2 separate regions of the Homo sapiens genome follow, and region 1 is linked to region 2. Evidence: fine-mapped expression QTL. A gene starts in region 2. The other region holds a variant in brackets. All regions are shown on one strand. Distances are from middle to middle. Region 1 overlaps VSTM1 (V-set and transmembrane domain containing 1). Region 2 holds the start of VSTM1 (V-set and transmembrane domain containing 1).

Evidence for each region. PIP is the estimated chance that this variant, and not a neighbour inherited with it, causes the effect.
Region 1: its variant is fine-mapped to the expression of VSTM1 in whole blood (TOPMed, PIP above 0.99).

The regions. Positions count from the first base shown.
Region 1 is chr19:54,032,492-54,048,388 of GRCh38, reverse strand. It overlaps VSTM1 (V-set and transmembrane domain containing 1), which reads left to right. Exons shown (of 9, transcript NM_198481.4): 5 at 6,020-6,112; 6 at 6,193-6,220; 7 at 6,436-6,473; 8 at 6,573-6,610; 9 at 7,309-7,564. The coding sequence ends at 7,428. Among named protein-coding and RNA genes, the nearest start is that of VSTM1, 23 kb to the left of the region's middle. RefSeq lists an enhancer at 11,929-12,504. The variant G/A (reference allele first, on the strand shown) is at 6,799.
Region 2 is chr19:54,057,192-54,073,088 of GRCh38, reverse strand. It overlaps VSTM1 (V-set and transmembrane domain containing 1), which reads left to right and starts at 9,192. Exons shown (of 9, transcript NM_198481.4): 1 at 9,192-9,345; 2 at 14,357-14,392; 3 at 14,499-14,783. The coding sequence starts at 9,312. It overlaps TARM1 (T cell-interacting, activating receptor on myeloid cells 1), which reads left to right. Exons shown (of 5, transcript NM_001135686.3): 5 at 2,929-3,194. The coding sequence ends at 3,086.

The DNA.
Region 1 (15,897 bases), 25 kb after region 2:
ATACCAGGACTTTGGGAAGATGAGGCAGGAGGATCACTTGAGCCCAGGGGTTCAAGACCAGCCTGGACAACTTGGTAAGATCCCATCTCTACAAAAAATACAAAAATTAGCCAGGCGTGGTGGTGTGCACCTGTAGTCCCAGCTACTTGGGAGGCTCAGGCAGAAAGATCGTTTGCGCCCAGGAGGTTGAGGCTTCAGTGAACTGTGATTGCGCCACAGCACTCCAGCCTGGGTGACAGAGCGAGACCCTGTTTCAGTAAATAAATAAAATAAAAGTAAAATATCTGTAAGCACAGGTATGATGTCCCCAGCCTGTATTTATATGCCTAAAACACACTAGAAAACGACTCTATGTTCAATCGCAATGTAGAGAATGAAGATGAATTTTATCACACAAGACTTGACTTTCTTTCTGGTGCCTGTGCCTCCATTTATGCCCCGTGTCAGGCTGTATCTTGTTGCTCACGCTGACTTTAGTAGCGTAGCAAGTTATGATTTATTCTGGCAATTTGCAAATACTGATGCAACATTTGGCCAGGATCTGTGGACATCTCAGGGTGAACCCAGTTCAGCTGATTATGGGGTCATATGAAGATGAGAATTTTGCAATAATGTACTTCTCATTTCTAGTGAATTGCTGTGTGAAAGATACCGTAGGCTGGAAAAGGGGAGAACAGAAAGGACAAGGCAAGGCTGCTGTTTCTCTGCTTCCATCTGGGGAAACTGAGAGTCCAGGAGCAGCTGTTCCTGCCCTGTTTTCATAAGTCCTTGGAGATGCACTGATAGAATTGTTGCTTATGGCCAGGCATGGTGGCTTATGTAATCCCAGCACTTTGGGAGGCCAAAGTGGGCAGAACACTTGAGCTCTGGAGTTTGAGACCAGCCTAACCAACATGGTGAAACCTCATCTCTACTAGAAATATAAAAAATTAGCGGGGTGAGGTGGCGGGTGCTTGTAATCCCAGCTCCTTGGGAGGCTGAGGCAGGAGAATTGCTTGAACCCCAGAGGGGGAGGTTCCAAAGCCGAGATTGTACCACTGCACTCCAGCCTGGGAGACAGAGTGAGACTGTCTCAAAAAAAAAAAAATTGTTGCTTTTGAGGGGTTCTCTGATTCAGCTCCACCAGAAGCAGGCTCTTAGACAGCATTAGTGTGAAAGTGACGTTTTATTTTATTTATTATTTATTTAGTTTTGAGACAGAGTTTCGCTCTTGTTGCCCAGGCTGGAGTGCAATGGCGTGATCTTGGCTCACTGCAACCTCCGCCTACCAGGTTCAAGAGATTCTCCTGCCTCAGCCTCCCAAATAGCTGGGATTACAGGCATGCACCACCACACCCAGCTAATATTCTATTTTTAGTAGAGACGGGGTTTCTCCATGTTGGTCAGGCTGGTCTCGAACTCCTGACCTCAGGTGCTCTGCCTGCCTCGACCTCCCAAAGTGCTGGGATTACAGGTGTGAGCCACCACGCCTGGCTTGAAAATTACATTTTAGGGAGTGGGGAAGAAGGGCTGGGAGGAAAATAGATTAAACAAGTGTGGGATATCTGTGTCCCTCAGATGGTATCTTTGGCTCCATCCTGCAGAAAGCAGTGGAGACAGAGAAGGTCGAAGACCAGAGGCTAGGGAGCTGGGGTCCCCACAGCCGTCAGTGGCAGTTTGTCCCGGGCATGTAAATTCCAAGGCATTTGGAGTTCTCCCAGGCAGTCCCCCAAAGAAGAGATACAAATGTTCACTTTGGAAAGGGAAAGAAGCCACGATCTAGAATGCATAAAAATGGGAAAGGGATCTGGGGAACATGGGTTGAGGAACATTGACAGAATCTATTACAGAGAGAGATGGGTGTAGGTGGAATATTGGGTGAAAAAAAATCATCATTATACCTACAATCCCATTATCCGACACAATGAGTCAGTTTCTAGACTGAGCGCTTTAAAGCCAGGATTTTTCATCATTACCTAACTCTTCAAGTTAGATATTATTAGCTCTCTGCCCCCTCCTTATATTTAACCAAAAAATAACGTATTCCAGAAAGGGAAGGGAACATTTACAAAGTCAGGAGGTAGGAGACCCAGTACTAGAACTCAAATATGTCTTGTTTCAAACTCCCCACTCCTTTTGCTGCTCCCTGATGATCAGCTCAGAAAGAACCTTATTTCAGGGAGGGGGATAGATAGATAATTAGATGTGATAGATAATAGGCAAGTAGGCAGATAAATAGATAACTAGATATGATAGATTAGATAGATACATAGATGATAGGTAGATAAGTAGCTAGATACGATGGACAGATTAGATAGATAGACAGATGATAGGTAAGTAGGTAGATAGATAACTAGATACAACAGGTTAGATAAGTAAGTAGATAGATAACTAGATATGATAGATTAGATAGATAAATAGACGATAGGTAAGTAGGTAGATAGATACAGATAGATTAGCTAGCTAGCTAGATGATAGATAACTAGATATAATAGATAAGATAGATGATTAGATAGACAGATAATTAGATATGATTGATAGATACATTAGATAGATGATAGATTAGATAGATAGATGATAGGTAACTAGGTAGCTAGATAAAGCTAGCTAGATAGATAGATAGATATACAGATACACAGATAGATACATAGATACCTAGATAGGTGATAGAGTTGCAAGATAGAAAAATTAGATAAGTAGGTGGATAGATAGATAGATAACTAGATAGAATAGATTAAATAGATAATAGTAGGTGAATAGACAGATACATACAGATGATAGATGATAGATGATAGATAACTGGTTATGATTGATAGATACATTAGATAGATGATAGATTTGGTAACTAGATGATAGGTAAGTCGGTAGATAGATAAGTGATAATTAGATATGATAGGATGGATAGATTAGACAGACAGCAGGTAAGCAGGTGGATAGACAGATAAAGATAGATACATAGATGCCTAGATAAGTGATAGATTAACAAGATAGAAAAATTAGACAGACAGATAGTTAATTACATATGATAGGATAGATAGATTGGATAGGTGATAGGCAAGTAGGTAGATAGATAAATCATAATTAGATAGGACGGATAGATTGGATAGATGATAGGTAAGTAGGTACAGAGACAGATAAAGATAGATAGGTAGATAGATAATAGATACCTAGACAGATGGTAGATAGATTAGCGAGATAGATAAATTAGATAGGTAATTCTCTATATATAGATATGTAGAAATGCCAATGCAAACATAGCGAACCAAGTAGGGGAAGCGTCTGGATGGGAGACCCTCTGTTGGTGCAGAGGACCAGGCGTGTGAAGCATCTCAGACTTGGCTCTGTAATGTGACCACAGATCATTGCACACCTAGGAAAAATTCTCAGACTCAAAGCACACTAACAAAGATAGCGGGGGTCTTGGTGAAGCCCCTTTCTGGGGCCTCACTTCTATAGTTGCTCAACTTTTTTCCTTAATCACGTTTCTGCTACTTACTCCTTAAAGTCTCACGACTTGTGTTTCTTGAATCTAAAGTGCCAAGAAAAACAAAAAACGGGGGGGAACTGCATGGACTCTGTCGCCTAGCTTTAGTAACAGGTTGCTCTCTCTTCCTCAACGCTGTGAGCTTTGGACACAACCCTTGCTGTAATCCCAGGAGTCACACGGGAATGCATGCCCTTCACCAGTGGGAGGGAAATAATTGTACTACCTTGCAGGGTTGTTGTTAAGACTTTAAAACGCTATGATGTAGACTTGCATGGCAATATTGCTCAAGAACTAGTTTTTTTTGTTTTGTTTTGTTTTTGTTTTTTAATTGGTAGAAATTTTATCTCCTGAGAGGGATGCTTTTTTGAGTTGGAGTCTTGGTCAGTTGAGTGTATGATGCAGTGATGCGATCTCGGCTCACTGCAACCTCCGCCTCCCAGGTTCAAGCAATTCTCTTCTCTCAGCCTCCTGAGTAGCTGGGACTACAGGCGTGCGCCACCATGCCCAGCTTATTTTTTATATTTTCAGTAGAGACAGGGTTTCACCATGTTGGCCAGGCTGGTCTCGAACTCCAGACCTCAAGTGATCCACCTACTTCACTCTCCCAAAGTGCCAGGATTACAGGCGTGAGCCACCGTGCCCGGCCACTGGTCATTCTTTTCTACCCTGCTCTAACCCTGTTCTTATTAGGAATCCTCCCTGAATTCTCCCAGCTGATCCCTTGTTCTGTGTCTTGGGGAATCATGTCTCCTTCAGAGAGCCCCACCCCTCCCCACTCTAAACGCCTTCCATGCCCGTGTCACTGCTGTTCATTACCTGGCATCAACGAGCTCATTGAAGTGTGTTTGAAGTTGGCTGGGCGTGGTGGTCTGTACTCCCAGCTACCCTGGAGGCCGAGTGAGGAGGACCACTTGAGCCCAGGAATTCGAGTATGATCACACCACTGCACTCTAGCCTGGGCAACAATGGGAACCCATTGGCACATCTGGGATTGGCATCCTGAGCTCCCATCTGTGACCTCCCTCCTCTCCCCTCCTCTCCCCTCCATTGCCCTCACCCTCTCCCCATAATCTTCACATCCCGTCCTTTCACATCTCTCTCTCTCCTTTAAAAAAAGAAAAAGGAAATATGTTTGAAGTTAAGAGCTGAGATCATGTCTGTGTTAGCCAGGGTTTTCCAGAAAAACAGAACCAATAGAACATATAGATATAAGCTGGGTGTGGTGGCTCACGCCTGTAATCCCAGCACTTTGGGAGGCCGAGGCAGGCAGATTGCCTGAGGTCAGTAGTTCAAGACCAGCGTGGCCAACATGGCGAAACCCCGTCTCTACTAAAAATACAAAAATTAGCCGGGCGTGATGGTGGGCACCTGTAATCCCAGCTACTCAGGAGGCTAAGGCAGGAGAATTGCTTGAACCCGGGAGGCGGAGCTTGCAGTGAGCCAAGATTGCACTATTGCACTCCAGCCTGGACGATAAGAGTGAGACTTTGTCTCAAAAAAAAAAAAGAGAACATATACATGTATATACATATATGGAGAGAGAGATTGATTTTAATGGATTGGTTCACGTGATTGTGGGGAGCTGGCAAGTCTGAAATCTGCAGGGCAGGCAGGCAGGGGATCCAGGGGAGACTTGATATTGCAGCTTGAGTCTGGAGGCAGAATTCCTTCCACCTTGGGGGACCTCAGTCTTTTCTCTTAAAGTCTTAAAGTCTTCAACTGATTGGATGAGGCCCACCCCTATGACAGTGGGTCATCTGCTTTACTCAAAGTCTATTGGTCGAAATGTCCAGCTCCAAGGAAGTTCCAGCTCCAAGGTGGGAGATCCAGGCTTGGAAGCCAGGCCATCTGTCTGGCTTCTCTTAGCTTTTCTACTCACCCCATCAGTGGATTTCAGACAGTGATTACACAGACAGATGTGGTGGCTCACGCCTGTAATCCCAACTACTCAGGAGGCTGAGTCAGGAGAATTGTTTGAACCAGGGAGGTGGAGGTTGCAGTGAGCCAGGATCACACTCCAGCCTGGGTGACAGAACACGACTCCATCTCAAAAAAAAAAAAGTGTGTATATATATATATATATGTATATATATATATATATATATATATATATATACACATTTATATATACACACACATATATATACATTTATATATATATATACACACACACACACGTATATATATATATGGAGCACCTGGAACAGAGCTGGCTCACAATAAATGATCAATATCATTGCTATGCACCAAACATTCCCTGGGAATTTTTGGAATTTCCTATGCGCCAAGCACTGTTCCAGCCCTTTCTATAGGTACTGACCCACCATCCAATAAAGTAGCTACTGCTGCTATCCTCACTTTACAGATGGGGAAACAGAAGCTTGGAGAAGATTAAGGAAATTCCCCAAAGCAATAGGAAGTTCCAGCTCCGAGGTGGGAGATCCAGGCTTGGAAGCCAGGCCATCTGTCTGGCTTCTCTTAGCTTTTCGGCTCGCCCCTATCAGTGGATTTCAGGAGCCAGGCTGATTCCCTGACCTGCTCTTCCCCCTCCAGACACCAGAACCATCTTTGTCGCCATCTTCAGCTGCATCTCCATCCTTCTCCTCTTCCTCTCAGTCTTCATCATCTACAGATGCAGCCAGCACAGTGAGCTCAGAGAACGCAAAGGGAGAGAGGGGGAGTGAAGGATTTTCTCGGTAGGTAAATTCCTCCTGCATTTTTTGTAGGTTCATCATCTGAGGAATCCACCAAGAGGTAGATGCTTGGCATAGCTCATGCTCCACTTATTCCCATGTCATTCTCAAGGGAACCCATTGGCACATCCGGGATTGGCACCCTGAGCCCCCACCCCAGCCCATTCTGTGACCTTCCTCCTCTCCCTTCTTCTCCCTTCCTCTCCCCTCCATTGCCCTCACCCTCTCCCCGAAATCTTCACATCCCATCCTTTCACGTGTGTCTCTCTCTTTCAGAACCAGCCATTCCAAACTTCCGGAGCAGGAGGCTGCCGGTAAGGGACAGGGGAAGTTTAAGGGAATCACCGGATAGAAAGACTAAGTTCTGACTTCTGCAGCTGAGAACTGATTTTTTTTTTTCCTTTCTCACTCAGAGGCAGATTTATCCAATATGGAAAGGGTATCTCTCTCGGTGAGTCCTCCCGCTTAGGAGTCCCACAAGAGCTCCCTCACCACAATGGGCTGGTCGTGTGTGCCTCCTGGTTAAGCCCATACAGAAATGTATACTGTTTATCACGCATGTGGTCTTAGACAAGTCACGAAACTCCCCTAATGGGAACCAAAATCTCCATTTAAAAGGCTTATGCATGGGCCGGGCGC[G/A]GTGGCTCACGCCTGTAATCCCAGCACTTTGGGAGGCCGAGGCGGGCGGATCATGAGGTCAGGAGATCGAGACCATCCTGGTTAACATGGTGAAACCCCATCTCTACTAAAGATACAAAAAATTAGCTGGGCGTGGTAGTGGGCGCCTGTAATCCCAGCTACTCAGGAGGCTGAGCCAGGAGAATGGCTTGAACCCGGGAGGCGGAGGTTGCAGTGAGCCGAGATCACGCCACCGCACTCCAGCCTGGGCGACAGAGCCAGACTCTGTCCCAAAATAAATAAATAAATAAAAATTTAAAAAAAATGAAAAAAGGCTTACGCAGATCCATTGATGTCACAGGCATAAAGGGTTATAAAAACAGAAAAGAAAAAGAAATGCATCTGGTGTGACCGAGGACCTGGGTTTTAAATTAAATTTAATTGTAATTAACTTAAATGTCAATAGCCATGTGTGGCTAGTGGCTGCCATATTGAACACTCAGTTCTAATATTCATCTATTTTCTCCAAAGACGGCAGACCCCCAAGGAGTGACCTATGCTGAGCTAAGCACCAGCGCCCTGTCTGAGGCAGCTTCAGACACCACCCAGGAGCCCCCAGGATCTCATGAATATGCGGCACTGAAAGTGTAGCAAGAAGACAGCCCTGGCCACTAAAGGAGGGGGGATCGTGCTGGCCAAGGTTATCGGAAATCTGGAGATGCAGATACTGTGTTTCCTTGCTCTTCGTCCATATCAATAAAATTAAGTTTCTCGTCTTAAAAAGAAATCTGACTTATTTATGGATTATTCATGCCCAAGAACCCCACCATACTCTTTCTACCCCACATTTCCTCCTAGAACAATTCAAGGAAATAATAAATAATGATTGACCAGCTATCCAGGAAAGAATGTAAGAATTACTGAGCATCTCCAGGAAGCACAACAAGCAAAAAAGAAAACGGCCGGGCTCACGCCTGTCATCCCAGCACTTTGGGAGGCCGAGGTGGGTGGATCATCTGAGGTCAGAGTTCAAGACCAGCCTGACCAACATGGTGAAATCCCATCTCTACTAAAAATAAAAAATTAGTTGGACGTGGTGGCAGGCGCCTGTAATCCCCGCTACTTGGGAGACTGAGGCAGAAGAATCGCTTGAACCCAGGAGGCAGAGATTGCAGTGAGCTGAGATGGCGCCATTGAATTCCAGCCTGGGCAATGGAGTGAGACTCCATCTCAAAAAAAAAAAAAAAAAAAAACAAAAAACGCCCAGAGCTGCAAACTCCTAGACCAGAGGGCAGAAAACAAAAGGACCAGAGAGTAACACGTCCAGCTTTGTGGGCTGTAGGATCTCTGCTGAGACTACCCCACTCTGCTGTTGTACCATGAAAGCAGCCATCGCTGATATGTAAACAAGTAGGTGTGGCGGTGTTAGAATAAAACTTTATTTACAACTTCATGTTCTCACTCATGTAGGAGCTAAAAAAGTAGATCTCATGAAGGTAAAGAGAGAGTCAGTTATCAAAGGCTAGAAGGGGTGGGATAGTTAATGGGCACAAACACAGTTGGATAGAAGGAATAAGTTCAAGTGTTCAATAGCACAGAAGGGTGACTATAGTTAACAGCAATATATTGTATATTTCAAAATAGCTAGAAGAGAAGATTTGAAACATTCCCAACACAAACGATAAATGAGCCAGGTGCAGTGGCTCACTCCTGTAATCCCAACACTTTGAGAGGCCAAGATGGGTGGATCACCTGAGGTCAGGAGTTCAAGACCAGCCTGGCCAACAAGGTGAAACCCCATCTCCACTAAAAATACAAAAATTAGCTGGGTGTGGTGGCGCACACCTGTAATCCCAGCCACTTGGGAGGCTGAGGCAGAAGAATTGCTTGAACTCGGGAGGCAGAGGTTGCAGTGAGCCAAGATCACACCACTGTACTCCAGCCTGGGCGACAGAGAGAGACTCTGTCTCGAAAAGATAAAAAAAAAGATAAATGTTTGAGGTGGTGAATATCCTAAATACCCTAATTTGAGTATTATACATTCTGTGCATGTATCAAACTATCACATGTATGTCATAAATATGCATAAATATTATGTATCTATAGAAAGTTTTTTTTTTTTTGATGGAGTCTTGCTCTGTCGCCCAGGCGCCAGAGTGCAGTGGCGTGATCTCAGCTCGCTGCAACCTCTCCCCGCAGGTTCAAATGATTCTCCTGTCTCAGCCTCCTGAGTAGCTGGGATTACAAGCTTCTGCCATCACACCAGGCTAATTTTTTTGTATTTTTAGTAGAGATGGGGTTTCACCATGTTGGCCAGGCTGGTCTTGAGCTCCTGACCTCAAGTCATCCGCCTGCCTCGGCTTCCCATAGTGCTGGGATTACAGGCGTGAGCCACCGTGCCCAGCCCAGAAAGTTGTTTTAAAAACAAAAAATTTTATTTGCAAAAACAAGCTGTGGGCTCTAGCGTGCCAACCCTTGTGCTAGGCCAGTGCTTTTTAAAGTCTGCTTGGGCCATCACCCCAACCACTTCTGGCCCTGATGAGGGTCCAGGGCATGAGAGGGAAGGAGAGAGTGTCTTAGTCCATCCAGGCTGCTATCAACATACCAAAGACCTGGCAGCTTACAGACAACACATAGTTATTTCTCATGGTTCTGGAGGCTGGAAGTCCAAGACCAAAGCACTGGTAGATTCAGTGTCTGCTGAGGGCTTTTTTCCTGGTTCATAGCTGGCACCTTCTTGCTGTGTCCTTACATAGTGAAAGAGACTGGGCCGGGCGCAGTGGCTCACGCCTGTAATCTCAGGACTTTGGGAGACCGAGTGGGGGGCGGATCACCTGAGATCAGGAGTTCGAAACCAGCCTGACCAACACGGTGAAACCCCATCTCTACTAAAAATATAAAAATTAGCTGGGCGCAGTGGTGGGTGCCTGTCATCCCAGCTACTTGGGAGGCTGAGGCAGGAGAATTGCTTGCACCTGGGAGGCGGAGGTTGAAGTGAGCCGAAATCGTGCCACTGCACTCCAGCCTGAATGACAGAGCCAGACTCCATCTCAAAAAAAAAAAAAAAAAAAAGAGTGAAGGCTTAATAAGCAAAAGAAAGAGAAAAGAGAATAGTTCTCTCTTTTGCACAGAGAAGAGAGGGGTTCCCGAGTGGGACCCCTGGTTTTGTGGTGAAATGCATGGGGCTTTTATAGACAAGCTTGAGGAGGTGCTGTCTGATTTACATAGGGCCTGAGAGATTAGTCGGACCAGGTATGACGTTTGCATAGCCCCCAAAGAAGCTGGCCATCCCACCCTAATCTTTTATTACGTAGGTAGGGTCTCTGCCTGGCCGGGGCCATGTTGTCTGCTTTTTTACTGCACATGTGGGGACAAAGAAAAGGGAAGAGGGAACCTCCATGTTGAATATACCCGGCTCCCAGGCATCCGTTTTCTATTGGCACAGCTGATGCAAGATTTTAGCTTGTTTATCTATGCTTGCAGCTTGATGTTTCAGGCTGCTTTCTGTTAGAAAAGAAATTATTTGGGGGCTGCTCTTTATTAATAGGAAACCTTACTGAGGACTCTCTTACCCTCACTGTCTGCCTCAATAATTTCTTTTTAGCTCCCGTATTACAAATACCATCACCTTGGGGTTAGGTTCCAACAGCTGAATTTTGTCGGGACACAAACATTGAGTTTACAATACCCATGAAGCTGTCTCTGCTTGTATCTTGTCCTAACCAGAAGCTCCCAGGATTGCTGCATCTGAAGGAACAACCTTGATATATGGCTTGTGTCTGTGTCCCCACCCAAATCTCATCTTCAGTTGTAGCTCCCATAATTCCCATGTGTTGTGGGATGGACCCAGTGGGAGATAATTCAATCATGGGGGTGGATTCCTGCAGGGTCCTATGGGGCTTTGCAGGTGTTCTCCCCGTGTGCAGAGATAAGAGATTGTAAGAAATAAAGACACAAGACAAAGAGATAAAGAGAAAACAGCTGGGCCCGGAGGACCACAACCATCAAGACGCGGAGACCGGTAGTGGCCCATAACGGCTGGGCGCGCTGATACTTATTGCATACAAGATAAGGGGGCAGGGTAAGCAGGGTGAATCTTCGAAGTGATTGACAAGGTGAAGCAAGTCGTGTGATCACAGGAGAGGGGGCCCTTCCCTCTTAGGTAGCCGAAGCAGAGAGAGAGGGAGAAGGCAGCATACGTCAGCGTTTTCTTCCATGCACTTATAAGAAAGATCAAAGACTTTAAGACTTTCACTATTTCTTCTACCGCTATCTACTATGAACTTCAAAGAGGAGCCAGGAGTACGGGAGGAGCATGAAAGTGGACAAGGAGTGTGAGCACTGAAGCACAGCACCACAGGGAGGGGTTTAGGCCTCCGGATGACTGCGGGCAGGCCTGGATAATATCCAGCCTTCCACAAGAAGCTGGTGGAGCAGAGTGTTCCCTGACTCCTCCAAGGAAAGGAGACTCCCTTTCACCGTCTGCTAAGTAACGGGTGCCTTCCCAGACACTGGCGTTACCGCTTGACCAAGGACCCCTCAAGCGGCCCTGATGCACGCGTGACAGAGGGCTCACCTCTTGCCTTCTAGGTCACTTCTCACCATGTCCCTTCAGCACCTGACCCTATACCCGCCGGTTATTCCTAGGTTATATTAGTAATGCAGCAAAGAGTAATATTAAAAGCTAATGATTAATAATGTTTATAATAATGATTGATAATTGTCCATGATCATCTCTACATCTAATTTGTATTATGACTATTCTTATTCTATTTTCTTTATTATACTGCAACAGTTTGTGCCTTCAGTCTCTTGCCTCAGCACCTGGCTAATCCTCCACCCACACATTCCCCCATGCCGTTCTCATGGTAGTGAACAAGTCTCAGGAGAGCTGAGGTTTTTATAACGGGTTTCCCCTTTTGCTTGGCTCTCTCATTTCTCTGTCGTCTGCCACCATGTAAGATGTGCCTTTCACCTTCTGCCATGATTGTGAGGCCTCCCCAGCCATGTGGAACTGTAAGTCCGTTATACCTCTTTTTTAAAAAGTAAACTGACTGGGCGCAGTGGCTCACGCCTGTAATCCCAGCACTCTGGGAGGCCGAGGCGGGTGGATCATGAGGTCAGGAGATCGAGACCATCCTGGATAACACAGTGAAACCCCGTCTCTACTAAAAATACAAAAAATTAGCCGGGCGCGGTGGCGGGCGCCTGTAGTCCCAGCTACTCAGGAGGCTGAGGCAGGAGAATGGTGTGACCCCGGGAGGCGGAGCTTGCAGTGAGCGGAGATCGTGCCACTGCACTCCAGCCTGGGTGACAGAGTGCGTCTCAAAAAAATAAATAAATAAAAATAAAAATAAAAATAAATTACTCAGTCTCAGGTATGTCTTTATCAGCAGTGTGAAAACAGACTAACGCAAACTTCTTCGCTCCCCCTCCCCTCACTACACAGTCCCAGGTTGCAGTGTGGAGGCCACATAGGGAGTAGCAAGGTGGGGAGGAGTGTCTCTTTGTTTTCTTGCCACAGAGAGTCATTCTTTTTTAAGCTTGGGAGTTCTTGGTGGCCATCTGTCTCGCCATGTGGAGGAAGCCAGTCTTTATGGAGAAACACAAAGATGACTCAGGGAGCATCCGGGAAGCGGGAGTGAGTAACAGTGCTTTCAGCTTTTGTTTTCTTGGTTCTAATTGCTTCCAAAGCTCAGCATTCCTTCACTCCCTGCAGTTTTCTTGCCCAATCCTTCTTGAACCAAAAAAACCCAAAAAGTCCTCCTTTGATTCTAAGCTATTCTGAGAATGGATTTTGTTTTGATTGAAGGGTCCTGGCAAACATTATTAAAATGGGTGGCCCTAATGGATATCCTTTATGGACATCTATGCTGGTAGTCACACTCACTGAATTACCATAGTGAGGACTCAGCTCTGATTTTTTTTTTTTATCTTGCCCAGATTCTTATCTAAGGGGTCTGGGGTCTCATGCCCTACAAACCATAAATTCTCATCAGATGGGTTTTATTTAGCCCTATATATCGTGACTTACTTTCCAATCTGACTCTGGCATAACATTACCTAACAAAGAAGAAAATAAAAATATTTTACCCCAAAACATGTTTCTTTGCCATATTTTTAAATGGCCCTGCAAAGCTGTCCTTGGTGGGGGGGAATATTTGCATATGTAAAGGATCTCTGTTAACATTGCTAGATCTTTTTCCTCCAGGACCTCCCAATCCTGAGGAGGTTAACTGAGAATCTAGCAACTTTTGAAGGTCTGAGTAGGAAACATTTGTCATCTATTGTCTCTAAGGGCAGCCACTATAAGACTTCAAAAGAACCTTGGTCTCCACAATCTTTTATCTTAACCTGAATATTTCCTCTCTATTAATCCCAGGTCTTTAGACAAACTCAACCAATTGTCAACCAGAAAATGTTTTAATTTACCTAAAGCCTGGAAGGCCCTGCCTCCTTCAAATTGTCCAGCCTTTCTGGACCAAACCAATGTATTTCTCAAATGTGTTTGATTGATGCCTCACGCCTCCCTAAAATGTATAAAACCAAGCTGCCCCCCGACCACCTTGGGTACATGGTCTCAGGACCTCCTTAGGGCTGTGTCAGGGGCCATGGTCATTATCATATTTGGCTCAGAATAAATCTCTTCAAATATTTTATAGAGTTTGACTCTTTTTGTCAACAAGAGTAAGTCTTGATATGTGATACGATCTGAGGGAGGCTCGGATCCACAGCTGGGGTTTGGACAGCTGTAGCATCACCCTGGGAGCTCCCGCCCCAACTCGGAAGGGGCAGGGCTCCCTGCGGCTCCATAGCGTGTATAGCCCGGGCTGGGCCTCCCTGGGGCAGGTGGCGTCATGGCAGCAGCAAGCCGTCTGGAGTGGCTGCTGCCATCACCAAAGGCCCAACCTCTCAGATCACATTGGGTGTCAAGATTTAACATGAGGCCGGGCGCGGTGGCTCACGCCTGTAATCCCAGCACTTTGGGAGGCCGAGGTGGGTGGATCATGAGGTCAGGAGATCGAGACCATCCTGGCTAACATATCTCTACTATAAATACAAAAAATTAGCCAGGTGTGGTGGCGGGTGCCTGTAGTCTCAGCTACTCGGGAGGCTGAGGCAGGAAAATGGCATGAACCTGGGAGGCGGAGCTTGCAGTGAGCCGAGATCCATCATTGCACTCCAGCCTGGGTGACAGAGCAAGACTCTGTCTCAAAAAAAAAAAAAAAAAAAAAGATTTAATATGTGGCCAGGCGCGGTAGCTCACACCTGTAATCCCAACACTTTGGGAGGTCAAAGTGGGAGGATCATGGGGTCAAGAGATCGAGACCATCCTGGCCAATATGGTGAAACCCTGCCTCTACTAAAAATACAAAAATTAGCTGGGAATAGTGGCACACGCCTGTAGTCCCTGCTACTCAGGAGGCTGAGGCAGGAGAATTGCTTGAACCCAGGAGGCAGAGGTTGCAGTGAGCCGAGATCACACCATTGCACTCCAGCCTGGGCGACAGAGGGAAACTCTGTCTCAGAAAAAAAAATAGAAAAGATCTAACATATGAATCTGTGGAAAGCACCGCCATGCAGCACAGGCCCAGGATTTGAAGTAAACTGAAGAGGCTCAACACATGTGGAGGTGGCTTTGTAAATAACTTCAGGAAACTAACTGAGGGTCATGTACCAGCAGGAGCAACTTCATAAAGGGGCCATGGAGAACCTGAGTTCCTTGCTGTTAAAAAGGAATATATAAATCCTGTTAGTTCAGAGAAAGCACAGATCATCAGTCTGATGAGGATAGGGCTTAATTATGGGCTGAATTACATCTCCTCAAAATTCGTGTGCTGAATCCTAACTCCCAGTAACTCAGAATGTGACTGTATTTAGAGACAAGAGGCCGTTGTGAAAAAAGGAAATTTGGACATAAAAAAGACACTAGGGGCTACGTGTGGTGGCTCACGCCTGTAATTTCAGCACTTTGGGAAGCCCAGGTGGGCGGATCGCCTGAGGTCAGGAGTTCAAGACCAGCCTGGCCAACATGGCCAAACCCCATGTCTACTAAAAATACAAAAATTAGCTGGGCGCGGTGGTGCACGCCTGTAATCCCAGCTACTCGATAGGCTGAGGCAGGGGAATCGCTTGAATCCAGGAGGCAGAGGCTGCAGTGAGCTGAGATCGTGTCATTGCACTCCAGCTGGGCAACAGAGTAAGACTCCAACTCAAAAAAAAAAAAAAGAAAAGGACACCAGGATATGTACATCCAGAGGAAAGACCACGTGGAGACACAGCAAGAAGGCGGCCATCTGCATACAAAGCAGAGAGACCCCGGGAGAAACTGACCCTACTGGCACCTCCATCTTGGATTTCCAGCCTGCAGAACGGTGAGAAAATCCATTTCTGTCCCATAAGCCCCCCAGTGGGGGGCATTTTGTTATGGCTTCCCTAGCACACAACTGTAGGTGGTAAACATATTTTAAACATTATAGTGATCATTTGTAAAAAAAAAAAAAAAAAAAAATTCAAAGAAATATATTTTCTACAGCTTCTCTTTATGATACCCTATGTTCCAAAGGCTACCTATTGTATTTTCTAGAAGACTATAAGAATTTTTCACACATGCTGGGGCCTGTCAGAGGGTGGAGGGTGGTAGCAGAGAGAGGATCAGGAAAAATAACTAGTGGGTACTAGGCTTAATAACTGGGTGATAAAATAATCTGATAATCAGGAAGTAGTAAATACACTAGAAAAAAAATAATCTGTACAACAAACCCCCATGACACACGTTTACCCGTGTAACAAACCTGCACATCCTGCCCATGTACCCCTGAACTTAAATGTCAAAAAAAAAAAAAGAATTTTTCTAGTATCATGCCAGGCTCTGTGGTTCATGCCTGTAATCCCAGCACTTTGGGAGGCTGAGGCAAGTTGATTGCTTGAGCATAGGAGTTCGAGACCAGCCTGGGGAAAATGGTAAAACCCTGTCTATACTAAAAATACAAAAATTAGCTGAGCATGGTGGTGCATGCTTGTAGTCCGGGCTACTCTAGAGGCTGAGGCAGGAGGATCGCTGGAGCCCAGGAGGTGGAGGCTGCAGTGAGCCATCATTGCACCACTGCACTCCAGCCT
Region 2 (15,897 bases):
TTCTAGGCTGTTTTTGAAAATTATGAATCTACCAGCACCAGATTCCTTCTACCAGTCTTTGCATCTCTTAGCGTTTTGGTTTTTTGTTTTGTTTTGTTTCATTTTGTTTTTGAGACAGAGTCTCGCTCTGTTGCCCAGGGTGGAGTGCAGTGGTGCGATCTCAGCTCACTGCAACCTCTGCCTCCCGAGTTTAAGCAATTCTCCTGCCTCAGCCACTTGAGTAGCTGGGATTACATGTGCCCGCCACCACGCCTGGCTAATTTTTGTATTTTTAGTAGAGATGGGGTTCTGACCATGTTGACCAGGCTGGTCTTGAACCCCTGGCCTCAGGTGATCCGCTCACCTCGGCCTCCCAAAGGGCTGGGATTGCAGGTGTGAACCACTGTGCATGGCGTGTTTTGTTTTTTCTTGGTGTTAGTGATTTCACTCTCAATAATTCTTTCTCAGTCATGTGTGGTGGCTCAGGCCTGTAATCCCAGCACTTTGGGAGGCTGAGGCTGGAGAATTGCTTGAGCCCAGGAGTTTGAGACCAGCCTGGGCAACATAGTGAGACCCAGTTTCAAATTTAAAAAAAAAATTATCTCATCCTCAGAACATGGTGTTTGCACAGCCTCCTGCTTCTATGCCGTGGATGCGAAGTCTACCCATGTCTTTTATTGACTGCTAGAATTCTTCTGAAAGTATCTTGTTTCCTGCCTTACTGGGTGCTAGCACTCTGCTTCCTCAGCTCTGTAAATTATTTTTCATCTGTTGTAACTGCTGTAATGAGTTACATTACAGCTCTTGCCGGGTGCCTGGATGAAGCCCATTCATCAAGACAGAGGAATTGCAAAAAAGAGTTTAATACACATTGAGCCAGGTAAGTGGGAGACCAGAGTTTTTTTGTTTGTTTGTTTGTTTGAGACGGAGTCTTGCTCTGTTGCCCAGGCTGGAGTGCAGTGGCGCGATCTCGGCTCAATGAAACCTCTGCCTCCCAGGTTCAAACGATTCTTCTGCCTCAGCCTCCCGAGTAGCTGGGACTATATGTGTGCCACCCTGCCTGGCTAATTTTTGTATTTTTAGTAGAGATGGGGTTTTACCATATTGGCCAGGCTGGTCTCGAACTCCTGACCTCGTGATCTGCCCGCTTGGGCCTCCCAAAGTGCTGGGATTACAGGCATGAGCCACTGCACCTGGCCAATCAGAGTTTTATTATTACTCAAATCAGCCTCCCTGAAAATCTGGAGGCTAGGGTTTTGTTTGTTTGTTTGTTTTCTTTGAGATGGAGTCTCACTCTGTCGCCCAAGCTGGAGTGTAGTGGCACAATCTGAGCTCACTGCAGCCTCCACCCCCCAACCCCAGGCCCAGGTCAAGTAATTCTCCTGCCTCAGCCTCCTGAGTAGCTGGGATTACAGGCACCCGCCACCACACCCGGCTAATTTTTTTGTATTTTTAGTAGACATGGGGTTTCGCCATGTTGCCCAGGCTGCTCTCGAACTCCTGGCCTCAAGCAATCCTCCCACTTTAGCCTCCCACAGTGCTGGGATTACAGGCGTGAGCTACTGTGCCCGGCCTCAACTCAAACTTTCTCAGGTGCACTGCTGCACAGCAGTGTGTGCTGCGAGGATGCTGATCCAGCCACGGAATTCGGGGCTCTGTAGAGCTCCTTCCGTCTCATGTGCTGCCCCAAGACTATTCCTTAACATAAGGATGCGGGAGGAGAAAAGGCAATGTGGGAAGGTGGAAATGGGATAAAGAGCAAATAAACGAAGGAAGAGAGCTAAGGTGGAGTGAATATCAAGGAAGGAAGATAAAGGAACTCCCATTACAACTCATTAGGATTGCATATCTTGGCCGGGCGCGGTGGCTCAGGCCTGTAATCCCAGCACCTTGGGAGGCCGAGGCAGGCGAATCACTTGAGGCCAGGAGTTCGAAACCAGTTTGGCCAACATGGCGAAAACCCATCTCTATTAAAAATACAAAAATTAGCCGGGTGTGGTGGTAGGTGCCTGTAATCCTAGCTATTCGGGAGGCTGAGGCAGGAGAATCGCTTGAACCCAGGAGGTGGAGGTTGCAGTGAACCGAGACTGCGTCGCTGCACTCCAGCCTGAGCAACAGAGTGAGACGTCGTCTCAAAAACAACAACAAAGATTCCATCTTTTGTTTTCAGGGATTAAAACTTTAAAGAGCTCAATTATGGCCAGGCATGGTGGTTTATGCCTATAATCCCAACACTTTGGGAGGCCAAGGCGGGTGGATCACCTGAGGTCAGGAGTTCGAGACCAGCCTGACCAACATGGAGAAACCCCGTCTCTACTAAAAATACAAAATTAGCCGGGTGTGGTGGCACATGCTCATAATCTCAGCTGCTTGGGAGGCTGAGACAGGAGAATCACTTGAACCCGGGAGGCAGAGGTTGTAGTGAGCTGAGATTGTGCCATTACACTCCAGTCTGGGCAACAAGAGCAAAACTTGATCTCAAGAAAAAAAAAAAGTTCAATTAAAACTTTAAAGTACAGTGGACTACTGGCTAGAAAACATTAAGTGGGTGGCCGGGCGCGGTGGCTCACACCTGTAATCCCAGCACTTTGGGAGGCTGAGGTGGGCGGGTCACCTGAGGTCGGGAGTTCAAGACCAGCCTGGCCAACATGGCGAAACCCCGTCTCTACTAAAAATATAAAATTAGCCGGGCATGGTGGCACATGCCTGTAATCCCAGCTACTTGGGAGGCTGAGGCAGGGAGGCTTGAACCTGGGAGGCAGAGGTTGTGGTGAGCTGAGATTACACCACTGCACTCCAGCCTGGTCAACAAGAGTAAAACTCCGTCTCAAAAAAAAAAACCAAAAAACCGAAAACATTAAGTGGGTGATGATAGTCAGATTTGGTGGGGCCATTTGAGAAGGAGGGATACCCTCTGAGGGTCAGTGCTGAGCCCCTTCTCTCTTTCAGTTCCCCCAGGTACCACATCGAGCAACTACTCCCTGGGTAACTTCGTACGACTGGGTCTGGCTGCCGTAATTGTGGTTATCATGGGAGCTTTCCTGGTGGAGGCCTGGTACAGCCGGAATGTGTCTCCAGGTGAATCAGAGGCCTTCAAACCAGAGTGACTCCATCTTGAACCGGGGCTGGGTAAACTGAGGCTGCAACCTGCTGGACTGCATTCCCAGGGGGTTGAGGCTTTCTAAGTCACAGGATGAGACAGGTCACAACATACAGGTCACAAAGACCCAAAGACACAAAGATGCAACAAAGAAGCCAGCCAAAACCTGCCAAATCCAAGATGGCAACAAAAGTGACTTCTGGTCGTCCTCACTGCACATTATTTGCTAATTATAATGCATTTGCATGCTAAAAGACACTCCCACCGCCACCAAGACAGCTTACAGATGCCATGGCAACTTCCAGAAGCTAAACGAGGGAGGGACTCTCAGTTCCAGGGAAATCCCCTCCCCTTTCCTGGAAAACTCATGAACAGTCCACCCCTTGTTTAGCATACGATCAAGAAATAACCACAAAAATAGCCGACTGACAGCCCTCTGGACTGCTCTGCCTATGGAGCAGCCATATTCCTTGACTTTCTTAATAAACTTGCCTTCACTTTACTCTGTGTACTCACCCTGAGTTCTTACTTGTGTGAGATCCGAGAACCCTCTCTTGGGGTCTGGACTGGGACCCCTTTCCAGTAACAGATCCAAGTTAAAACACGGATCCCCTCTCTCTTTCATGGGCTGCTGTAGAGATATGGAATTCTCTTCTGCTCCAGATTTATTGAGATCTAATCGACAAATAAAAATGGAGTTATATTTGTGTACAACGTGATGTTTTGATATATTCCATTTTGATTTATCAATTATACCCCCATAAGCCTACGGGTGGGGAACCCTCCTACTAAGTAATTTATTGTGTACCAAGGAAGAAATTTCACTGATTGTGACATGAGTATCACAATGTAGCTAACGAACCTTTCTGTTTAAGATCCACCTTCTGGGAACCTCCCTACTAAATAATTAATTGTGTACCAAAGAAGAAATTTCACTAATTGTGACATGATTATCACAATGTAGCTAATGGACTTTTCTGTTTAAGATCCACCTTCTGGGAACTTTCCTACTAACTAAGTAATTAATTGTGTGCCGAGGAAGAAATTTCACTCATTGTGACAATGGTTATCTCAATCTAGCTTATGGACCTTTCTGTTTAAGATCCACCTTCTTAGCAAATTGTAATTACCCAGTGCAGCCTTGTGAACTGTAGCCGCCCTGCTGTGCATTCAATCCATATGGGGTTCTTTAAACATCAGACTCTACCATGGGGACTTCACACGTTTCTCCACATGGGCACAAATGGTATTTTTTGTTTTTTTGTTTGTTTGTTTGTTTTGAGACAGAGTCTCGCTTTGTCGCCCAGGCCAGAGTGCAGTGGTGCGATCTCGGCTCATTGCAACCTCCGCCTGCCAGGTTCAAGTGATTCTCCTGCCTCAGCCTCCCAAGTGGCTGCAACTACAGGCACCTGCCACCATCTGGCTAATTTTTTTGTATTTTTAGGAGAGACGGGGTTTCGCCACATTGGTCAGGCTGGTCTCGAACTCCTGGCCTCAAGTGATCCACCTGCCTCAGCCTCCCAAAGTGCTGGGATTACAGGTGTGCACCACCGGGCATGGCCACAAATGGTGTTTAAAGTGCAATAGTCCTTCACCATGTGAGACTGTCTTGTCCATTATAGGAACACGTAACTCGACATTGCTAATACTTCCTTTCCCATTGAACACCTGTTGGAGACCTAATTATTGTGAAACAACAACAACAAAAAAGCCACTACTCTCATACCTTTCAAATATCCCTGGATGGGGCGATGGGAAGTGAGGGTGGTGCTCCCCCTGGTTGAAAAGCTGTGTTTGGATGCCGGGAGAAAACAATCTTCCTCCTCTTCCTTCCCCTCTAAGCTCAGCTCTGTTCTTCTCTAGCCATAGATCCCACAGCTGCCCAGGGAATGATGGGTTGGACCAGCTGAGCCTTAACCGCTTTCTGTGGAACCTGCACTCTCAGCTCTGTTGGGATCTGCTGTAGGGCAGGATGGTGGCTTTCTTCTTCCTGTACTTTTCACTGGGGACAGAGGACAGAATTGGGCACAATGAGCCACGTAATACTTTTTTTTTTTTTCTTTGAGACGGAGTCTCGCTCTGTCACCCAGGCTGCAGTGCAATGGCAAGATCTCGGCTCACTGCAACCTCCACCTCCTGGGTTTAAGCGATTCTCCTGCCTTAGCCTCCCAAGTCGCTGGGATTACAGGCGCCTGCCACCATGCCCAGCTAATTTTTGTACTTTTAGTAGAGATGGGGTTTCACCCATGTTGGCCAGGCTGGTCTTGAACACCTGAGCTCAAGTGATCAGCCCACCTCGGCCTCCCAAAGTGCTGGGATTGCAGGCTTGAGTCACCGTGCCCAGCCCTTAATACATTTTTGATAACTTGAATCAATACTTAAAACTTCAGAGTCAGATTGAGTAGTAGGTGACTCTCACCTGCGGGGAACTCTTCCTCCACACGAAGGGAAAAACATTGCTTCCTGTGTAATATTTATTAATACTTCCTCTCCGTTCTTTCTATTTTGTGCTTCTGGACCAGCATTTAGTCCAATATTGGGATATACATATTTATTTATTTATTATATTTATTTATTTTGAGACAGGGTCTCACTCTGTCGCCCAGGCTGGAGTGTAGTGGCTAGATCACGGCTCACTGCAGCCTCGACCTCCCAGGCTAAAGTAATCCTCCCATCTCAGCCTTCTGAGTAGCTGGGACCACAGGTGTGTGCCATCATGCCGGACTAAATTTTGTATTTTTTGTAGAAGCCGGGTTCCACCATATGGCCCAACTTGGTCTCGAACTCTTGGACTCAAGTGATCCTCTCATCTTGGCCTCCCAAAGTGCCAGGACTACAGGCGTTAGCCACTGTGCTTGGTCATATGTATTTATAATACATTCTTTCTTTCTTTTTTTTTGGAGAGGGAGTCTCACTCTGTCACCCAGGCTGGAGTGCAGTGGCGTAATTTCAGCTCACTGCAACCTCCCTCTCAGGTTCAAGTGACTCTCCTGCCTCAGCCTCTCAAGTAGCTGGGATTACAGGCGCCCACCACCATGCCTGGCTAATTTTTGTGTGTTAGTAGAGACGGGGTTTCACCATGTTGGCGAGGCTGGTCTCGAACTCCTGACCTCAAGTGATCTGCCCACCTTGGCTTCCCAAAGTGCTGGGATTACAGGCATGAGCCACCACGCCCAGCCTGTATTTATAATACATTTCTTTTACATTTTATTTTATATGTTTCCAACATTTTACCCAGTTTGGCAGGAATTCCATTCTATCCATGGCATCCATTTGCTTGTAATTGGTAGCCAGTCTTACTGGTGCAGATGTAAAATGTCAACAGTTGCCAGGTGCTGTGGCTCATGCCTATAATCCCAGCACTCTGGGAGGCCGAGGTGGGCGGATCACAAGGTCAAGAGATCGAGACCATCCTGGCCAATATGGTGAAACCCCATCTCTACTAAAAATACAAAAATTAGCTGGGCGTGGTGGTGCATGCCTGTAATCCCAGCTACTCAGGAGGCTGAGGCAGGAGAATTGCTGGAACCCGGGAGGCAGAGGTTGCAGTGAGCCGAGATCTCACCACTGCACTGCAGCCTGGGCGACAGAGCGAGACTCCGTCTCAAAAAAAAAAAAAAAAAAAAAGTCAACATTTATGTTTTGTTGTTACATTTTGTTTTCAAGATTTGTTGCTGTTTCTTGTTAATAGTCTTATTATTTTTCGTAAATATCATTCTTATTTTATAACTATTGTCTCCTCTGTTATAACTCTGAGGATGTGCTTATCAAAGCAATATTCCTCCTCTTCCTCCACTAACCACAGGTTGGTCCTTCTCTATCCACAGACCACACAGCTGCCAAGGGTAGCATGCGCTAGAGCTGCCGATCCTTAGAGTTTCCTGTGCAGCCAGCATTTCCAGCTGTTTGAGAGCCGCACCAGGACAGGACGATGGCTTTCTTCCCATCCTCCTCACTTAGGACAGGACGGGGTGGGCACAGGGACCCATCCAGCAAGTTATTATTTTTGTAGTTATTAAGATAGAAAGTATAGGCCGGGCATGGTGGCTCACACCTGTAATCCCGCCTCAGCCTCCCAAAGTGCTGGGATTACAGCGGTAAGTCATCATGCCCAGACGATTATTTTTTATTTGTATACGTTTATGGGGTACAAGTGTAACTTTATTGCATGGATAGATTCCAAAATGATGAAGTTAGGGCTTTCAGGTATCCACTAACCCAGTGACACACATTGTATCCATTAGATAATTCTTTTTTTTTGATGGAGTCTTGCTCTGTGACCCAGGCTGGAGTGCAGTGGCGTGATCTCAGCTCACTGCAACCTCCGCCTCCCGGGTTCAAGCGATTCTCCTGCCTCAGCCTCCTGAGTAGCTGGGACTATGGGCGTGTGCCACCACGCCCGGCTAATGTATCCATCATCATAACACACAACCATTTGAATGAATCTCACAGGCATTGTGCTGAGTGAAAAAGGTCACCCTCAGAAGGTGAGGCGATGGACGATTCCATTTATACAAGAGTCTCAAAGTGACAAAGTGATAGAGACGTAGAACAGATTAGCAGGTGCTAGGGTGGGAGAGCGATTATAAAGGGGCAGCATGAGGGAGTTCCTACGTGGTGGTGGGACAGTTCTGTGTCTTGATTGTGGCGGTGGTTCTATAAAGCCATACATACAGGCAATAAAATGTTACAGAACTATACCCATAGGCAAAGAAAAGGGAGGAGGAAAAGAAGGTGGAAGAGGAGGAAGAGCAGGAGAAAAGAAGGAAAAGGAGAAAAGGAAATAGAAATAGAAGGAAGAGGAAGAGAAAAAGAGAAACGAATTATGCACAAACTGGTGAGATCTGAGTGACCTCTGGAACCTGGTTAAACGTGTGATGCCAGTGCAAAGTCTCTGGTTTTGAAAATGTGCCATACGCCGGGCGTGGTGGCTCACGCCTGTAATCCCAGCAGTTTGGGAGGCCGAGGCAGGCGGATCGCCTGAGGTCAGAAGTTCGAGACCAGCCTGGGCAACATGGCAAAACCTCGTTTCTACTAAAAAGAACAAAAAAAATTAGCCAAGAGTGGTGGCGGACACCTGTCATCCCGGCAACTCGGGAGGCTGAGGCAGGAGAATCGCTTGAACCCGGGAGGCAGAGGTTGCAGTGAGCCAAGATTGTGCCACTGCACTCCAGCCTGGCTGACAGAGATTCTGTCTCAAAAAAAAAAAAAAAAAAAAAAAGTACTGTAATTATAAGAGATTACCATTGGCCGGGCACAGTGGCTTATGCCTGTAATCCCAGCACTTTGGGAGGCTGAGGTGGGCGGGTCACTAGAGACCAGGAGTTCAAGACCAGCCTGGCCCACATGGTGAAATCCCATCTCTACAAAAAATTAGCTGGGTGTGGTGGTGCATGCTTGTAATCCCAGCTACTTGGGAGTCTGAGGCAGGAGAATCCTTAAACCCATGAGGCAGAGGTTGCAGTGAGCCGAGATCGCGCCACTGCACTCCAGCCTGGGTGACAGAGCAAGACTCTGTCCCCCCCGCCCCCCAAAAAAAGGTTAACATTGTGGGGAGCTGGCTAGTGGGTACACGGAAGCTATAAAGCTATAGGTATTAATGTTTGTTTGTTTGCTTGTTTGAGACAGTTTCACCGTTGTTGTCCAGGCTGGAGTGCAGTGGCACAATCTTGGCTCACAGCAACCTCCGCCTCCTGGGTTCAAGCCATTCTCCTGTCTCAGCCTCCGGAGTAGCTGGGATTACAGGCATGCGCCACCATGCCTGGCTAATTTTGTATTTTTAGTAGAGACGGGGGTTTCTCCATTTTGGTCAGGCTGGTCTTGAACTCCCGACCTCAGGTGATCCGCCCGCCTCAGCCTCTCAAGGTGCTGGGATTACAGGCGTGAGCCACCGCGTCCGGCCGGTATTAGTGTTTTAAAATAAAAAATTACATTTACAGAAAACTCTTGGCAGAACTTCAGATAAGGTAGGACAGAGCTCGGGCGGGTGGGGCCACACACACCGGATTCATGGGGAAGAAGTTATCATCGACGGCTTCTTGTTTCCTGAGTCGGTTGTGAGAAGGAAACTGCAAGAGTGGGGCAGAGAACCAGAGTGTCAGAGCAAAACCTCCTCTATCTGCACATCCTGGGGACGAACCGGGCAGCCGGAGAGCTGCGGCCGGCCCAGTCCCGCTCCGCCTTTGAAGGGTAAAACCCAAGGCGGGGCCTTGGTTCTGGCAGAAGGGACGCTATGACCGCAGAATTCCTCTCCCTGCTTTGCCTCGGTGAGTCTCCAGGACTGGGACGAATGGGCTTGGGCTGGTGAGAAAAACTCATGTGGGAGTGGCAGTCCAGGTGGAAATGCGGTGTGTGGAAGTAATGACTTCCAGGTGTTGCACACCTGCGGTGGGTGGGTCTGGGCTGTGGGTTCTGTGAGTTCTGCCGCCCACATGCAAGCGAGGAGGAGGCCGCGCTGCAGAGACACGGGGACAGACTCCGCTGGGAAAGGCAGAGCTGCTGTGGGGTCTCCGAGTCTGCAGCCGCTAAATACCGCAGTACTGCCATCATCCTCCGTCGGAATAGAGGAGGGCTGGGCTTAGGGATCTACAGGGTGCAAGGCTGTGGGCAAAAAGACAATTTTCTTCTCTCTCTCTCTTATTTATTTATTTATGTATGTATGCATTTATTTATGAGACAGAGTCTCACTCTGTAGCCCAGGCTGGAGTGCAATGGCGTGATCTGGGCTCACTGCAACCTCCGTCTCCCAGGTTCAAGCGATTCTCCTGCCTCAGCCTCCCGAGTAGGTGGGACTACAGGTGCAGGCCACCACACCCGGCTGACTTTTGTATTTTAAGTAGAGACGGGGTTTCACCATGTTGGTCAGGCTGGTCTCGAGCCCCTGACCTCAGGTGATCCGCCCGCCTCAGCCTCCCAAAGTGCTGGGATTACAGGCGTGAGCCACCACACCTGGCCCCAAGAAGACAATTTTCTGACCAGCTCGATTCTTAGGCTGATTTTAACCATCCTCCAATTGAACCTGATGTATTCAGACAGAGCTCACACTGTGAAACGGATGACCTGGGTTATAATCTCGGCTTTACTACATAGAAACTCTAGGCTTGACCCAGCAGAGCTCCACCTCCCTAAGGCCCCAGTTCCTCCCTGGTGCACGGGGGGTGCGGTGGACATCGACGTGCTTCGTCTGCTTCAGTTCCTTCCTCCTTTTCTGGGTGCAGCCCTTCCTTGTGGGGTAATGCTCGTCTCCTACACACATTTGCACCTTAGATGAGCATTTTTTTTTTTTTTTGACAGAGTCTTGCTTTGTCTCCCAGGCTGGAGTGCAGTGGTGTGATCTCAGCTCACTGCAACCTCCACCTCCTGGGTTCAAGCGATTCTCCTGCCTCCGCCTCCCGAGAAGCTGGGATTATAGGCACACGCCACCACGCCTGGCTAATTTTTTGTGTTTTTAGTAGAGATGGGGTTTCACCATGTTGGCCAGGCTGGTCTCAAACTCCTGAACTCAGGTGATCTACCCACTTCAACCTCCTAAAGTGCTGGGATTACAGGTGTGAGCCACTGCACCCGGCTATTTGTGCCTTAGAGATGACTATCGGGTTCATACCCAAGCCTCCAGCTGCTGAGCACAGTAAGCTGGGCAACCAGGAGACTGACCTCATCCCCCAATGGCTGCCATACCAAAGTACTACAAGCCTGGTGGCTTAAAGGAATTAGAATTGCTTTAAGTTGGGGAGATGAGAAGTCTGAAACCAAGGTGTTTGCAATGTTGATTCCTTCTGAGAACTATGAAGGAGCGTCTGTTTTATGCCCCTCTTCTAGTGATGGCTGACAATTCTTGGCATTTTTTTTTTTTCTTGAGGCGGAGTCTTGCTCTGTCACCCAGGCTAGAGTGCAGTGGCATGATCTTTCTCACTGCAACCTCCACCTCCTGGGTTCAATCAATTCTCCTGCCTTAGCCTCCCAAGTAGCTGGGATTACAAGCATGGACCACCATGCCTGGCTAATTTTTGTATTTTTAGTAGAGACAGGGTTTCACCACGTTGGCCAGGCTGGCCTCGAACTCCTGACCTCAGGTGATCTGCCCGCCTCAGCCTCCCAAACTGTTGAGATTACAGGCGTGAGCCAGCGCTCCCGGCATTCTTTAACTTGTAGATGCATCACTCCAATCGTTGGCTCTGTTTTTTTTTTTCTTTTCTTTAGACAGGGTCTCACTCAGTTGCCCAGGCCGGAGTGCAGTGGTACCACCATAGCTCACTGCAGCCTCAACCTCCTGAGCTCAAGCAGTCCTCCCCGCAGCCTTCTGAGCAGCTAGGACTACAGGTGCACACCACCATGTTGGACTAATTAAAATAATTTCTGTTTTAGAGATGGGATCTTGCTATATTGCCCAGGCTAGTCTCCAACTCCTGGGCTCAAGCAATTCTCCTATCTTGGCATCCCAAAGCACTATGATTGCAGCCTGGCCTCTCTGCCTCTGTCTTCGCATGGCCGTCTTCCTTCTGTGTGTCTCTGTCTCTCTTTTTCTCTTCTTGTAAGTTATATTGGATTAGATACCCAGCCTACTCTAGTATGACCTCATCTTAGTTTAATTAATTACATCTGCAAAGATCAGACAATGCTATTTTCAAATAAGGTCACATTCGCAGGTCCTGGGAGTTACAACTTGAACTTCTCTTTTCAAGAAACACAAATCAGCCAGGTGTGGTGGCTCACGCCTGTAATCTCAGGACTTTGGGAGGCCCAGGCGGGCAGATCTCTTGAGGTCAGGAGTTTGAGACCAGACTGGCCAACATGGTGAAACCCCGTCTCTACTAAAAATACAAAAATTAGCTGGGCATGGTGGCAAGGACCTGTAATCCCAGCTACTCGGGAGGCTGAGGCAGGAAAATCGCTTGAACCTGGGAGGCAGAGGTTGCAGTGAGCTAAGATAGCACCGCTGCCCTCCAGCCTGGGTGACAGAGGGAGACTCCATGTCAAAAAAAAAAAAAAAAAAAGAAAAGAAAAAGAATATGGGAATTGGGCTGGGTGCAGGTAGCTCACACCTGTAATCCCAGCATGTTGGGAGGCCAAGGTGGGAGAATCACTTGAACTCAGGTGTTCGAGACCAGCCTGGGCAACATCGTGAGTCCTCATCTCTACAAAAAAATTTTAAAATCAGCCAGCGTGGTGGTGCATGCCTGTAGTCCCAGTTATTTGGGAGGCTGAGATGGATGGATCACTTGAGCCCAGGAGGTTGAGGCTGCAGTGAGCTGTGACTGCACCCTGGCACTCCAGCCTGGGCCACAGAGTGAGACCCTGTCTCAAAAAGAAAAAAGAATATAGGAATCACTGTTTGAACAGACGATGGGTGGATAGCAGAGATGAGATGACATGAATCTAAAAGCGGGATTTGGGGAGGGTCTCAAAACAGAGCCTGAGTCCTGGGATGCCCTGCCCACCCAGAGGCTGTTTCCTACCTGCCAATCCCAGCTAATCTCGCTGCCAACGCAGCTTCGGTCCATCGTGAGGCCTCCACCTCATTCCTCTGTGGTGAAGCTTGGTGGGGGGTCACGTTCTGTATCGGCACCTGTGTCAACAAGGAACCAATGTCCTGAGACACTGTCGTGGCTCTAGAGAATTTCTACCTAAATTCTACGTAACTTCACCCTGAAACAAGCCCCATGACTGACATCCCATTTTCCACCCAAGTTTAAGACGCTACCTTCCCAGCGGGGAATGTAGAGAACAGAACACAGAAGAGGGAGGGGATAATGTAAGTGGAAACCAAAGCTAAAGTGAGGAGAGTATTTGGGACCAGAAGACACGGGGAAGGGGGAGCAGATTCTCTCTATTGGAATTGAGCAAGAAAACCCTCCTCTCGGCCGGGCGCGGTGGCTGATGCCTGTAATCCCAGCACTTTGGGAGTCCGAGGCGGGTGGATCACGAGGTCAGGAGATCAAGACCATCCTGGCTAACACAGTGAAACCCCGTCTCTACTAAAAATACAAAAAAATTAATTAGCTGGGCTTGGTGGCGGGTGCCTGTAGTCCCAGCTACTCGGGAGGCCGAGGCAGGAGAATGGCGTGAACCCGGGAGGCAGAGCTTGCGGTGAGCCGAGATCGCGCCACTGCACTCCAGCCTGGGTGACAGAGCGAGACTCCATCTCGAAAAATAAAAAAAAAAAAAAAACCCACCACTCTCACTCCACGATAAAATAACCTTTGCATTATTTAAGTGGCAAGGGTAAAACTGCAATCAGGCCGGGCACGGTGGCTCATGCCTGTAATCCCAGCGCTTTGGGAGGCTGAGGCGGGTGGATCACTTGAGCTCAGGAGTTTGAGACCAGCCTGGGCAACATGGTGAAACCCCATCTCTACAACAACAACAACAAAAATTAGCTGGGCACGATGGCACACACCTGTAGTCCCAGCTACTCTGGAGCCTGAGGTACGAGTATCACTTGAACCCAGGGGGTGGAGGAGGTTGCAGTGAGCTGAGACTGCACCACTGCACTCCAGCCTGGGTGACACAGCGAGACTCTGTCTCAAAACAAAACAAAACACTGCAATCACAGAAAATACCAGAAAAAAGCATAGGTGAATGTTGAACAATTTCTAGATGGTGAAAGGATTACTCATGAAAGCAATTCAATACATCAGAAAAGGTTGCTGGGCCGGGGGCAGTGGCTCACGCCTGTAATCCCAGCACTTTGGGAGGCCGAGGCGTGTGGATCACCTGAGGTCAGGAGTTCAAGACCAGCCTGGCCAACATGGTGAGACCCTGTCTCTACTAAAAATGCAAAAATTAGCCAGGTGTGGTGGCGGGTGCCTGTAGTCCCAGCTACTCGGGAGGCTGAGGCAGGAAAATTGCTTGAACCTGGGAGGCGGAGGTTGCAGTGAACTGAGATCATGTCATTGCACTCCAGCCTGTGCAACAGAGCAAGACTACATTTCAAAAAAAAAAAAAAAAAAAGAAAGAAGAAGTTGCTGGAATTTTCTCCATACACGTAGCTTCTGAATGACAAACAATGGAACAAAAGTAAGAGGTAAGTCTGGGGAGATATCTGCCAAAAATATATACATATATGTAATACATATATTTAATATATATATTATATTTATATATGTATTATATGTAATATGTGTACATATACTTAATACATTTATTATATATAATACATATATACATTATATATATATATATATCTCAGACCTATAAAGAGCTAGTCATACGTTCTCTGCTGGATTTGTACTCAAGGACAAGCACATAATTTTTCTCTCATTGAGATTTCTCTTCCAGGGCTGTGTCTGGGCTACGAAGATGAGAAAAAGAATGGTGAGTTTTCTCCTACTTAAACTTTTATTCCTGCATCCCACGCTTCATGACCTTTTCCTTTAATCGTCTGAATTCTAGACTCAAATTAACTCTGAATTGTTTCCAGAGAAACCGCCCAAGCCCTCCCTCCACGCCTGGCCCAGCTCGGTGGTTGAAGCCGAGAGCAATGTGACCCTGAAGTGTCAGGCTCATTCCCAGAATGTGACATTTGTGCTGCGCAAGGTGAACGACTCTGGGTACAAGCAGGAACAGAGCTCGGCAGAAAACGAAGCTGAATTCCCCTTCACGGACCTGAAGCCTAAGGATGCTGGGAGGTACTTTTGTGCCTACAAGACAACAGCCTCCCATGAGTGGTCAGAAAGCAGTGAACACTTGCAGCTGGTGGTCACAGGTGAGAAGGGCAGATGTACTCTTTGATGCACACATTTCTTTGGTTTGGCTTTGCTTTTTTTTTTTTAAGACAGAGTCTTGCTGTGTCTCCCAGGCTGGAGTGCAGTGGCACGATCTCGGCTCACTGCAACTTCTGCCTCCTGGGTTCAAGCAATTCTCCCTCCTCAGCCTCCCGAGTAGCTGGGACTACAGGCGCCCGCCACCACGCCCAGCTAATTGTTTGTGTTTTTAGTAGAGATGGGGTTTCGCCATGTTAGCCAGGATGGTCTCCATCTCCTGACCTTGTGATCCACCTGCCTCCGCCTCCCAAAGTGCTGGGATTACAGGCATGAGCCACCGCGCCCGGCCTAATTTTTGTATTTTTAATAAAGATGAGGTTGTACCATATTGGTGAGGTTGATCTCAAACTCCTGACCTCAAGTGATCCATCTGCCTCGGCCTCCCAAAGGGCTGGGATTATAAACGTGAACCTCCACACCCAGCCTTTTTTTTTTTTTTGAGAGGGAGTCTTGCTCTGTTGCCCAGGCTGGAGTACAGTGGCATGATCTCAGCTCACTGCAACCCCCGCCTCCTGGGTTCATGCAATTCACCTGCCTCAGCCTCCCGAGTAGCTGGAACTACAGGGGTGCGCCACCACACCTGGCTAATTTTTGTATTTTAGTAGAGACAGGGTTTTACCATGTTGGCCAGGCTGATCTCGAACTGCTGACCTCAAGTGATCTGCCCACCTCAGCCTCCCAAAGTGCTGAGATTACAGGAGTGAGCCACTGCGCTCGGCTGCTTTTTTTTTTTTTGACAGAATCTCGCTCTGTCACCCAGGCAGGAGTGCAGTGGCATGAACACAATTCACTGCAGCCTCGACCTCCCAGGCTCAAGCGATTTTCCCACATCAGCCTCCCAAGTAGCTGGGAGTACAGGCAAGCACCACCATGCCTGGCTAATTTTTAAATTACTTGTTGAGACAGGATCTATGTTGCCCAGGCTGGTCTTGAACTCCTGAGCTCAGGTGATCCTCCTGCCTTGGCCTCCCAAAGTGCTGGGATTACAGGCGTGAGTCACCAAAGCCTGCCTGATGCACGTATTTCTTTTCCTGTCGTGGGACATGGCTGGGGAAG